3 separate regions of the Homo sapiens genome follow, and regions 2 and 3 are each reported to be linked to region 1. The links are microRNA targets in miRTarBase. Many come from high-throughput screens and were not tested one by one. Region 1 holds a microRNA gene; each other region holds the end of a gene's coding sequence.

Region 1 (3,248 bases):
AGACTCCCCTCTCAAAAAAAAAAATTGGGAAACAGTGATGTCTCCGAGCGCCGTGCCCTGTCATAGCCTAGGCTGAGGGCTGCCCTTCACTCTGCGACCTTGAGCAAGGTCCTTAAAGCTCTCCATCTTCCCATTAAAATGGAAACGGACATCTATTAAGGTTGTTGGGAGGAATAACAAGATTACTGGGTATAACAGGAGCTCAGTACTGCACTCCAGCCTGGCCGGCAGAGTGAGACTCAGTCTCAAAAAAAAAAGCGCTCAGTAAATACTACTTTCATCCCACAAATTTCTTATTCAGAGGGCACTGGAAAGGTCGGTACTTAGATGCCCAGTGAAAACCCCTCACCCCAATCTCTGCCCTGCCTGCAGGAGCCCTCGTACTCGGTGCTGGTCTTCTCTTCTCTCTCCGGTCTGTGCGCTCAGTGGTGCTTCGAGCTGGAGGGCAGCAGGTGACCCTCACCACTCATGCCCCCTTTGGCTTGGGGGCCCATTTCACAGTTCCTTTGAAGCAGGTATCTTGCATGGCCCACCGGGGTGAAGTCCCTGCCATGCTACCTCTGAAAGTCAAAGGCCGACGCTTCTATTTCCTCTTGGACAAAACTGGACACTTCCCTAACACAAAACTCTTTGACAATACTGTGGGTGCCTACCGGAGCTTGTGAAGAAATGACCTCAAGTCACTCACCTCTCCAAGAGGAGGATAAAAACTGAACCTTGGGGAGCCAGGTGTGTTGGTTCACACCTGTTGTAATCCCAGCACTTTGGGAGGGTGAGGCAGGAGCACTGCTCGAGCCCAGGCTGGGCAACATAGCGAGACCTTGTCTCTATTTACAAAAAAAAAAACAAAAAAAAACGCCAATCTTAGAATGGAGTAACAACCAGGGTCACACAAGGAGGTCAAGATTCATTAACAACAAATAAAGGAGCAGTCATCCCTAGGGCAGCTGCCTAACAGTACCTCTAAGTTTCAGTCCATGTCTGCTTAGCCTTCACTCCTTCCTCCTATCTAGTTGTACTTTAACATCAAAAACTCACTACTAAGATGAAGACAGTAATATAATATTTTGGTACAAAAACAGCTGCAGGAAGAGGTGGAGGGGGGCCTGTCATTATGTTTCCCCCCCACCCCCCAACGAAAGGAAAACTAAGACTCCCAACATAAACAGGGCCTTGAGGGGGGGGATTACAGGCACTTGGGCATGGAGTCTTCGGCTGCAGGAAGCACTCCGCTTATTCTTCAGGAATGGGAAAGGCGTGACCCAACGAGAGCATCTGTCTCAGAGCTCCACTCAGGGTCACCCCTCTCCAGAGGCCGGTATGGGGTGGCTTCAGACTTCCACTGCACGACCTGGAGCACCAAGACCACACACCACAATACCAAATTCACCCAAGAAGAGGTCTGTAGGAGACAGGGACAGGATCGTCAGGAGTGGGACCATTTCAAATCCAGTCCTTCCCACCCACACACCACTCTGAACTGCTGAATTTTAAGCTGACAACCCCTTCAGCTCCTCTCACTGGTAGGCCAAGCTCACAATACACTGGTGAGCACCCACACAGCTACAGATATTTATGTCAGTTTTTCCTCCTATCCTTGGGTCTCACTTCAGCATTGTGTAGGTTGGAGTAAAACTGCAGAGCAGTTCCAGGGGGTGTCCATGGAATTTTCTGGGCTTCAGAACAGCTGTGAGGTCAAAGAGACAGTTGTGAGAAAGCGTGATAGTTTATATCCGAGGCACACCTGTGCCCAGTGCCCTGTGAGTTGAGAGCAACTGATGGGGATAAAAGGAAATTATAGGACCCCGCTGCAGAGGGAAGGTAGTCAGCCCCAGCCAGGCTTCCCTCCCTCTCCCATTACCTAATTGTAGTGTTCAAGGAGATGATGGAGTTGCAGAGAGACCTGGTGCCAAATCGAAGGATACAGGCAGACACCAAGACCAGGAAGACGGCTATAGCTGAGATGGCCAGTGCAATGCGCAGCCCTATAGCACCTCTGAAAGGGAGAGAACAAGCCTTGTGGTGGAGGTGAGGCTCATCCTACCTCAGCCCCTGGCCCTCAGGGTTAGGCAGTCACCTGTGGGAGTCCTCGATGCAGCTGCTGTAGATCCAGAAGAGCAAAAGCAGGAGGCAGTAGAGGGCCAAGAGGCCAGAGGCCCCAGCTACAAAGTAGCACAGGGATGGTGCTGAGGGACGGGATAAGGCCAGGGAGGAGCCATTCAGGGTGGCCACACCATACAGGGGACATCTACCACTGAAGGAGCCCTGTGGAGAGAAGCTGCTGAGTCCTAGATTTCAGGTTAATGTCTCTAGATACAGTCTCTTGGTAGGGTGTTAGTGATAACTTAGGAATGGTCCTGCATTCCAGGAAGTTATTTGTGCACCGTCAATTCCTATTTCTGGGACAGGGATATTGATGGAGAGGGCCTGCTGGGGAATCACACCGGCAGTGGCCAGAAGGATCAGAAAATAGGCAATGAATATAGAATGCAATGAGCTTCAGAGAAGCCTCACAAGTTATGGTCTCTGTGCAGAAACCTTAGAGTAAACCCAGGCCTTGTATATCCTTCAACAAATAACTATCTGTGAGGTGCTTTTTTTTTTTTTTTTTGCTGGAGTGCAGTGGCGCCATCTCGGCTCACTGCACGCTCTGCCTTCTGGGTTCATGCCATTCTCCTGCCTCAGCCTCCTGAGTAGCTGGGACTACAGGCACCCGCCACCATGCCTGGCTAATTGTTTGTATTTTTAGTAGAGACAGGGTTTCACCGTGTTGGCCAGGATGGTCTTGATCTCCTGACCTCGTGATCCGCCTGCCACGGCCTCCCAAAGTGCTGGGATTACAGGCGTGAGCCACCAGGCCCGGCCAGTGTTTTTGTTTTTGTTTTTGCGATGGAGATTCGCTCGTCACCCAGGCTGGAGTGCAATGGCACGATCTCGACTCACTGCAACCTCCGCCTCCCAGGTTCAAGCGATTCTCCTGCCTCAGCCTCCGAAGTAGCTGGGATTACAGGCATGAGCCACCACACCCGGCTAATTTTTGTATTTTTAGTAGAGACAGAGTTTTGCCATGTTGGCCAGGCTGGTCTCGAACTCCTGACCTCAAGTGATCCGCCTGCCTCAGCCTCCCAAAGTGCTGGGATTACAGGCGTGAGTCACCGCGCCCGGCGGATCTCTGAGGTTTTCTCATGGTGTAAAATAGGCACACTAGTGCCTACTTTATAGGCATTAAATGAACCCATGTTTATTAA
Region 2 (3,248 bases), not on the chromosome of region 1:
TGCTGGCCTCTGTCACATTTTTTTCAGCCAAAACAGCCTTTCAGGGCCACCAGGTGATGTGGTTAGAGTACTTAGGATAAACCAATAGGACTGTATAATGAGAAGCTAGCTTTGGTCACTAGACTGTTATGTAAAATATTTGAAATTTGTAGGCCTTTCAGCTGCTTGATGAAATTCAAGAATCACTTGATTTAGATGCAAATCGTATGTTTGAAATGTGCACATGGGATTGGTTTTGGCTTTGTATTTTTAGAGGAGTTCTTGTGCCCAGGTAGCCCAGATCCCCACTGGTTGCTGCTGCTAAATCTGGGGGTCTTAGGTAGACAGCCCACTGGCTCCCTCAGCGGAGAGCCTAAGGTAACAGAAAATGTTTTGGTCCACACTCTGCCATTGCACTTGGTGAGATTCACTGGTGGAGGTGCTGATCCTTCCTTGACCAAAGCAGAAAGGACCCAGTTTCCTTAGAGACTTGTGGGCTGTCAGAACCCAACTCAGCCTTCTTCCTACACCATTGTTGTGCTGTGGCCTGCAGAGCCAGGAGAGAACCCAACACCTTCTTTAGCTGAGGATCCTGCTTTCTTCCCCACTGTATCTCACACGGACAGAAGACAAGTTCACTCATTCCTCTTGGGTCCGAGTTCTCTGTAATGGTCCACTTAATGAACAGTGAACCTACTTCTAGAACCATCTTTTGAACAAGAAAACAGTCTTTTGTCAGATAAATACATCAAGGCAAACCTTGAAGACAGCATGAGAAAATCCAGCACTGCTGGACTGGTGCCTTGCAGGCAGGTGGGAAGGAAGGGGAGCCAACTGCCTGTAGTTCCCACCAGCAGTGCCAAATGACCAGCCATCTCCCCAGCCCAGGTGTGCACAGGGCATCATTGTTCAGCCCTTGGGTTTGAGTAGAGGGCTAGGCCATGTTTGTCCAATATGGAGAACAGGGGTTGGCCTTACTCCTCCATATTCCATACTGAATAGCCTTCCTATGAACTAATTCTGGCTGCGTGGCTGAAGAACGTAACTAGATGGTTTGCTATGATGTTGACATGAGAGCCAGCTGAGGCTGAATGGCCAGCGAGGCTCAGTGGACATTGTTTCACACCTCCCCACAAACCATCTCTTGATGCTCCTGCTGGAGATAGACTGTGGGGTGGGATGAACCATAGGGCTGTGCTAGTATGGTATTTTTATATTATCATTAGAAGAGAAGCAGAGGAGGATGGAAGGAAAGGCAAGAGGAGCAAGTCTCTTAATGTGGCACAGTGTTGAAAGGAAGTACATTGTTGCTGACGTTGGTTAAGACTATGATGAAAAGATGTCAGAAGCTGCACTGTGAAAGCAAGGCTGTGACATTTGGAGAAGGTGGTTTGTGTCTGTGGACTAGCTCCCCACTGACCATCTCACAGATCCACCCACTTGTGCTCCCCTGAATCTACCTCCTCTTGGGGTTCGAGTGCAGAACTCTTGCTCTTCATTTTCTTCTTCTTTTCAATCCTGTTATTCTTAACACTGTATTTAACTCCAAGGAATTTTATTTTGAATCACAACTCTAAGATCTCTTGTTTGGAGGGCAGTTTCAATTTATTAATGAACCAGAGAAAACAGCACAAAATGACTGAAAAGCCAAGAAAGATGGGTAGGGGTTCATTCTGCCTGATTCTCCCGTGCATATGGAATAAAGCCTCCCTGAGCTCCATGCCCCTTAGATAAGGGAAGGCTGGTCCTGCAGAGGGAGCACAGTGCTTCTCTGTTTCTATATTGTGGATGGAAAACTCTCTCTCCCCACCCCCCCATGGAAAGTTTCCCTCTGCAGGATCATCAACCTGAACATCTAAGACCTCAAAAACACCTCTTTTTAAAAAAATTATTATTATTATTATTATTTTTTAGAGACAGAGTCTTGCTCTGTTGCCCAGGCTGGAGTACAGTGGCGTGATCTCAGCTCACTGCAGCCTCCATCTCCCAGGTTCAAACAATTCTCCTGCCTCAGCCTCCTGAGTAGCTGGGATTACAGGCGTGTACCACCACGCCTGGCTAATTTTTGTAATTTTAGTAGAGATAGGGTTTCATCATGTTGGCCAGGCTGATCTTGAACTCCGGACCTCAGGCAATCTGCCCACCTCGGCCTCCCAAAGTGCTGGGATTACAGGTGTGAGCCACCATGCCTGGCCAAAAAGACGACTCTTGAAACACATTTTTCCAATTTGCAGCTATACTTTTTCACACCTTTGGATTTCACTTTGTCTGAAGCAGTGCATTTAGAGAGAGATTGCAAACCCAGTCCATTAGATTCTATTGTTCTTTTCTCCTATGCTGCTTAATAGTCTACATCCAGGTTTATCCCCTCACACTCAGAAGACAAAATATTAAGACTTTAAATTAGAGATTCCAAAAGTATGAACATACATCATCTCATCTGGTCCTCACAACAGCCCTGTGAGGCAGGCAGGCAGGCATCATGGTTCCAGAATGCAGAGGACAGAGTCCTAACTGGTTAAGCTGGAAACCAAATCCATGTCCTCTGTCTCCTGGTTTAGTGCTCCTCCCACTCCATGAGATGAACAGCACTCACTGTAATGAACAAAACAGCCTTTCTGCTTAGAATAGATGAAATGTCCTTTGGGCTTGCACACAGGTGATTTTAAGTAGAAACCTTGCTAGAAAGCTTGGAAGAAAAACACACCTGAGCTCAGTTCAGCATCAGAATCAGCATCAGAGGGATGAACAGGAAAGAACATGGACATCTTTGACAAGGGTTTCTGCTTATGTTCTTGATTCTCACCCAGATCATGGTTGAGTGCTGTAACTTTAAAGCAGCAAAGTCCAGTAGGAGGGAAGGCATTTAAAGGACTTTCTCATCTAGCAACTTATTGATTCCTTCACAAATCCTCTTGAGGTTGGGCCTACAGTCTCCATCCAGACTATAGAGGGTGGAGAGGAACTCCACATCGGCAAAGTGGTTAAAGACGTGGTTGATGCGCCCGTGGGTCCTGGGCGTCAGGTGCCGCTGCACCAGTTCATGCACCAGGTCCTTGCACTCATGCAGGAGATTGGAGAGCACGTTCCTATCGAAGGTGTATTCCACCTCATAGAAGCTGACAATGGTCATGGCGGTCTGGTTCAGCTTCTTCCGGAACTTCTCCACAATAACCAGCTCCTCTTGGCTAAACTGGTTGTTCCGGTAGAGGATCCCGATTTTGATCGCCACCTTGATTAAGTCTTTCATGATCTTGTGGGCTTCCTTC
Region 3 (3,248 bases), not on the chromosome of region 1:
CTGATGCCACAGGAGTGCTGGGCCTGGTGCTTGCAGCTCTGGCCTGGCCATGGGGCGCCCTGAGGGGACTGAAGTGCAGGGCGGCTGGGGGGCCCTGAAGAGCCATGTTGCCTCCCTGCCCCCCAGAAATATCGAAGAGATCCTGACGGCCAGAGGCGAGCAGGTGCACCGTGTGGCGGGCGAGGGGGCCCTGGAACTGGTTCTGGAGGCTGCAGGGGCCCCCACATCCACTGCAGCTCCGGAAGCGGGTGAGGATGAGGGTCCCCCCAGCCCTGGCAAGACGGAGCCGAGCTGACTCCTGCGCTCCCCGGCACTGTGGGACTTCGGCCTTCCAGAAGGAGGTTTTGGCCCTGGGCCTCTCTGGACGTGGCCTGTTTTCTATCAATAAACAGACATTACTTCCAGATGCTGGGGCCTGTGGCCCTCGTGGCCTTTCTTTTTCTGGAGTTAGAACGATTGCTCTGAATCCCTGGTGCTGCTGGGTGGGACATAGGAGCCGCAGGACCTCTCGCCTCACCACAGTTCCTTCTACACAGAGTCACCCAGCTCTTGCCCACAGAGGCCACAGTCGCGTGGAAAGGGGGCTGGATGTGGCGTCAGAGCCCTTCCTGGCTGTCGCTGCGTGACTTTGAGCAGGTCACCACCCCTGTGAGCCTCAGCCTTCCTCTGCAAGGCCCTTGCCGCCCCCCTGGCCAGCTCTGGCGGCCTCCCTTCCGTGAGCCAGTGCAGACCTGAGCCCTGGTCCTCGGCCGCCGGCCGTCGGCGAAACAGTGAGCAAACCAGGCTGCCTGCTGGCCCAGGCAGGACGAGCAGCTATGGCGTGGCCGTGTGTTAGGAGCTCCAGACCCCTCCCGGGGGAGCCACCTGGGCCTCCTTCCCTCGGTGGACAGCGCTCTGGACGTCCCCAGGGCCCTCCGAGGTGTGTGGGGTTTGTCTCCCAGCCTTGTCTGTGCGCAGGATGTTCCCGTGTTTATGAAAGCGAGCAAACACAGCAGCCTGTTTATTTGCAGAAGCGTTCTGGGCAGCGTAACCTTCAGCATTCATCACCCGCCACACTCCGGCAGGGAAGAGAATGGGGCGAGGTGGGAGGTGGAGGCAGGACTGAGCACGACAGGGACCCAGTGCGGCCCCTCCCAGCGGGACACGGCCAGGACTGCCAGCTCACATCCGGCCCGTGGGAGGCCGGGGCGCGGCGGCATCGTTCCCAGTGTGCTTGTGGCGTGGGCTTTGCCTCGATTACCCCCTGTCCTTCTTTCAGCCAACAACCCTCTATTATTCCCACCCAGAGCCTTCTGTGCCATTTGTGGAAACTGTCCTCTTCTCGGCTGAGCCACCGGCACCCAGGCCTGCTCCTCCATGGAGGCACTGGCTGGGGGTCTCTTGGGGGCTTGGAAGTGCAGTGGGGCTGGGCTTGGCTTGGCTGCCTCACTGCCTCCAGAGGGCCTGGACCAGCATGTGGGGAGGTCCAGGGAGCCGTCTGGACCTGGAAGTGCAGAATTAGAGCAAGGAGAGCCGCTTGGGCCAACCCCTCCTCTTACGGATGGGGAGATGGCGGCTGGTAGTTGGGATGTGGACGTTACCATGTCTTTTCTGTCTGATGCCAGCACCTCTGGGCCCAGGCTGGCCCTGGAGGGAAATCCTTCCCAAGGCTGGCACGTTCCTAGAGAAGACCTATGGCTACCCCCCGCGTGCCAGAAGCATCCCGCCAGCTCCTGCCTGAGGCCCCCTGGACCCTGTCTCCCTCCGCCCTTCCCTCCCCGCAGCCCCAATCCCACAGCCAGGTTTCTGCAAGGGGCTTTGCCATCCTAATCTCCTGCCACTCTACACCCCCCCGCCCCAGGACATCCCTGCCTCCCGGGCACGGTTGCTGGCCTGGGCATCCCTCGTCACAGCGTCTCTCCAAGCAGGTTCCTCGGCCGCACCTTCAGAGGCTGTCCCAGCCAGTAGCGTGGGCGGCACTGCTGCGCTTCCCTGGCTGTGCGCGGTCCTGGGCCCTGCACGGTTACTTGGACCCTGTGTGCGTGTACCACCACACGCAAGCTGGCTGGGACCCTGGACCTGGAGTACACGTTGATTCTGGTTCCCAAGGCCCCTTCTGGGGTGGAGGAGGCAACGGAGTCAACCAGCACAGAGGCTGTGGCTGCCAACATGGCCAGGTGGGCTGTGGCGAGGGGCAGCAGGACTGCCCGGCGCACCTGTGTGTCCCCTGACGGGGGCCCCGTGGGGGTGCCACCCACCACAAGCAGCGCCCAGACAAGCCCCAAGACTGCAGATCTGCCGTCGGCTCCTCCACTGTGGCTCAGTGTCCAGACCCTGAGCCCAGCCGGATCAGACTCCAGGAAAGGACCTCCCTCCCCCGGGTGCTGGGTGGGCGGCAGCAGGCTGGGTCCTCAGGGGGTCGTGGGGCTGACCTGGGGGCTGCTGCTTCTGGGGGCTGGTCCCGGCCACGTGAGTGTCAGCTCAGAGCATGCTCTGTTTCCCTAGGGGCTGGGAGCGTGAGGAGGTAGGGGTGCAGGAATCAGTGGTGACAGCAGGCAGCCACTTCACCCCTCTGTGCCCCAGCTCCCCCGTGGTTAAATGCAGTGGGAACTCCATCTCTCTGAGGTCTCAGAGGGCCCAGACAGTGGGTATCTGTGGACACTTTGCACAGTGCAGCCTCTTACCGGGTTAGGCCCCCACCCGGGACTAAGCCCATACGGACCACACTCACTTGGCCGACTTTATTTTTCAGGAAAAACAGAAAAACAAATGTACCTCTTGGGTTGGAAAGGACCCATTGACAACATGGCACAGACGTGAGCAATAAATACGCACATACATTCAAGTATGCGGGGGGGCGCTACGTCCTGGAGACCCTGTGTTCGGGCACCTGTCCCTGCTCTCGGGTGCGGCCCTGCCCCTCCAGAAGCAGGTCACCTCACCAGGCCCAGATCTGCCTCTCCATCCTAGCCTGAGAGTGGGGCCTAGAGGCACCCTCCTAGATGGAACTGCCAGCCCTGGGGGCTGTGGGGCCATGGTAGGGCCCTTGGCAGTCTTGGGAGGTGCCAAGGCTGGGTCTGGACAGGAGGAGGCAACCTCAGGCCCCTGGGGCCCATCTCAGGCTCCAGCAGGTCCTGCCAGTCCTAGGATCCCGAACTTGGTGCCCTGTGAGCCCCCTCCCCATGGAGAGAGCAGTGATGTCATCTCCCCCAGCTGGTGGGAGGAGGGGGGTTCTCATATGGGGGGTCTGCAGGGTTGAGCTGAGTGAA

The links. Region 1 holds the annotated microRNA hsa-miR-6748-5p (UGUGGGUGGGAAGGACUGGAUU, at 1,447-1,468, opposite strand). A microRNA usually pairs through its seed, bases 2 to 8, with sites in the 3' UTR of a target mRNA and lowers its output. Matches are read on the target gene's strand: a 7mer-m8 pairs with bases 2 to 8, a 7mer-A1 pairs with bases 2 to 7 and ends in A, and an 8mer does both.
Region 2: miRTarBase lists TNFAIP8L3 as a target of hsa-miR-6748-5p. The part of its 3' UTR that is shown has no 7-base or 8-base seed match.
Region 3: the mRNA of DNLZ is a reported target of hsa-miR-6748-5p. Seed matches in the 3' UTR shown: 7mer-m8 at 2,231-2,237.

What each region holds. Positions count from the first base shown.
Region 1 is chr11:62,788,040-62,791,287 of GRCh38, reverse strand. MIR6748 (microRNA 6748) reads right to left here and starts at 1,473; the gene lies at 1,403-1,473. TMEM179B (transmembrane protein 179B) reads right to left here. Exons shown (of 5, transcript NM_199337.3): 2 at 2,078-2,265; 3 at 1,862-1,996; 4 at 1,609-1,687; 5 at 888-1,402. The coding sequence ends at 1,241. It overlaps TMEM223 (transmembrane protein 223), which reads left to right. Exons shown (of 2, transcript NM_001080501.3): 2 at 373-1,317. The coding sequence ends at 665.
Region 2 is chr15:51,055,036-51,058,283 of GRCh38, forward strand. TNFAIP8L3 (TNF alpha induced protein 8 like 3) reads right to left here. Exons shown (of 2, transcript NM_001311175.2): 2 at 1,566-3,248. The coding sequence ends at 2,846. All of the region lies in intron 1 of MIR4713HG (MIR4713 host gene), which reads left to right. Among named protein-coding and RNA genes, the nearest start is that of MIR4713HG, 19 kb to the left of the region's middle.
Region 3 is chr9:136,359,059-136,362,306 of GRCh38, reverse strand. DNLZ (DNL-type zinc finger) reads left to right here. Exons shown (of 3, transcript NM_001080849.3): 3 at 127-2,824. The coding sequence ends at 295. It overlaps GPSM1 (G protein signaling modulator 1), which reads right to left. Exons shown (of 14, transcript NM_001145638.3): 14 at 2,706-3,248. Among named protein-coding and RNA genes, the nearest start is that of DNLZ, 3.1 kb to the left of the region's middle.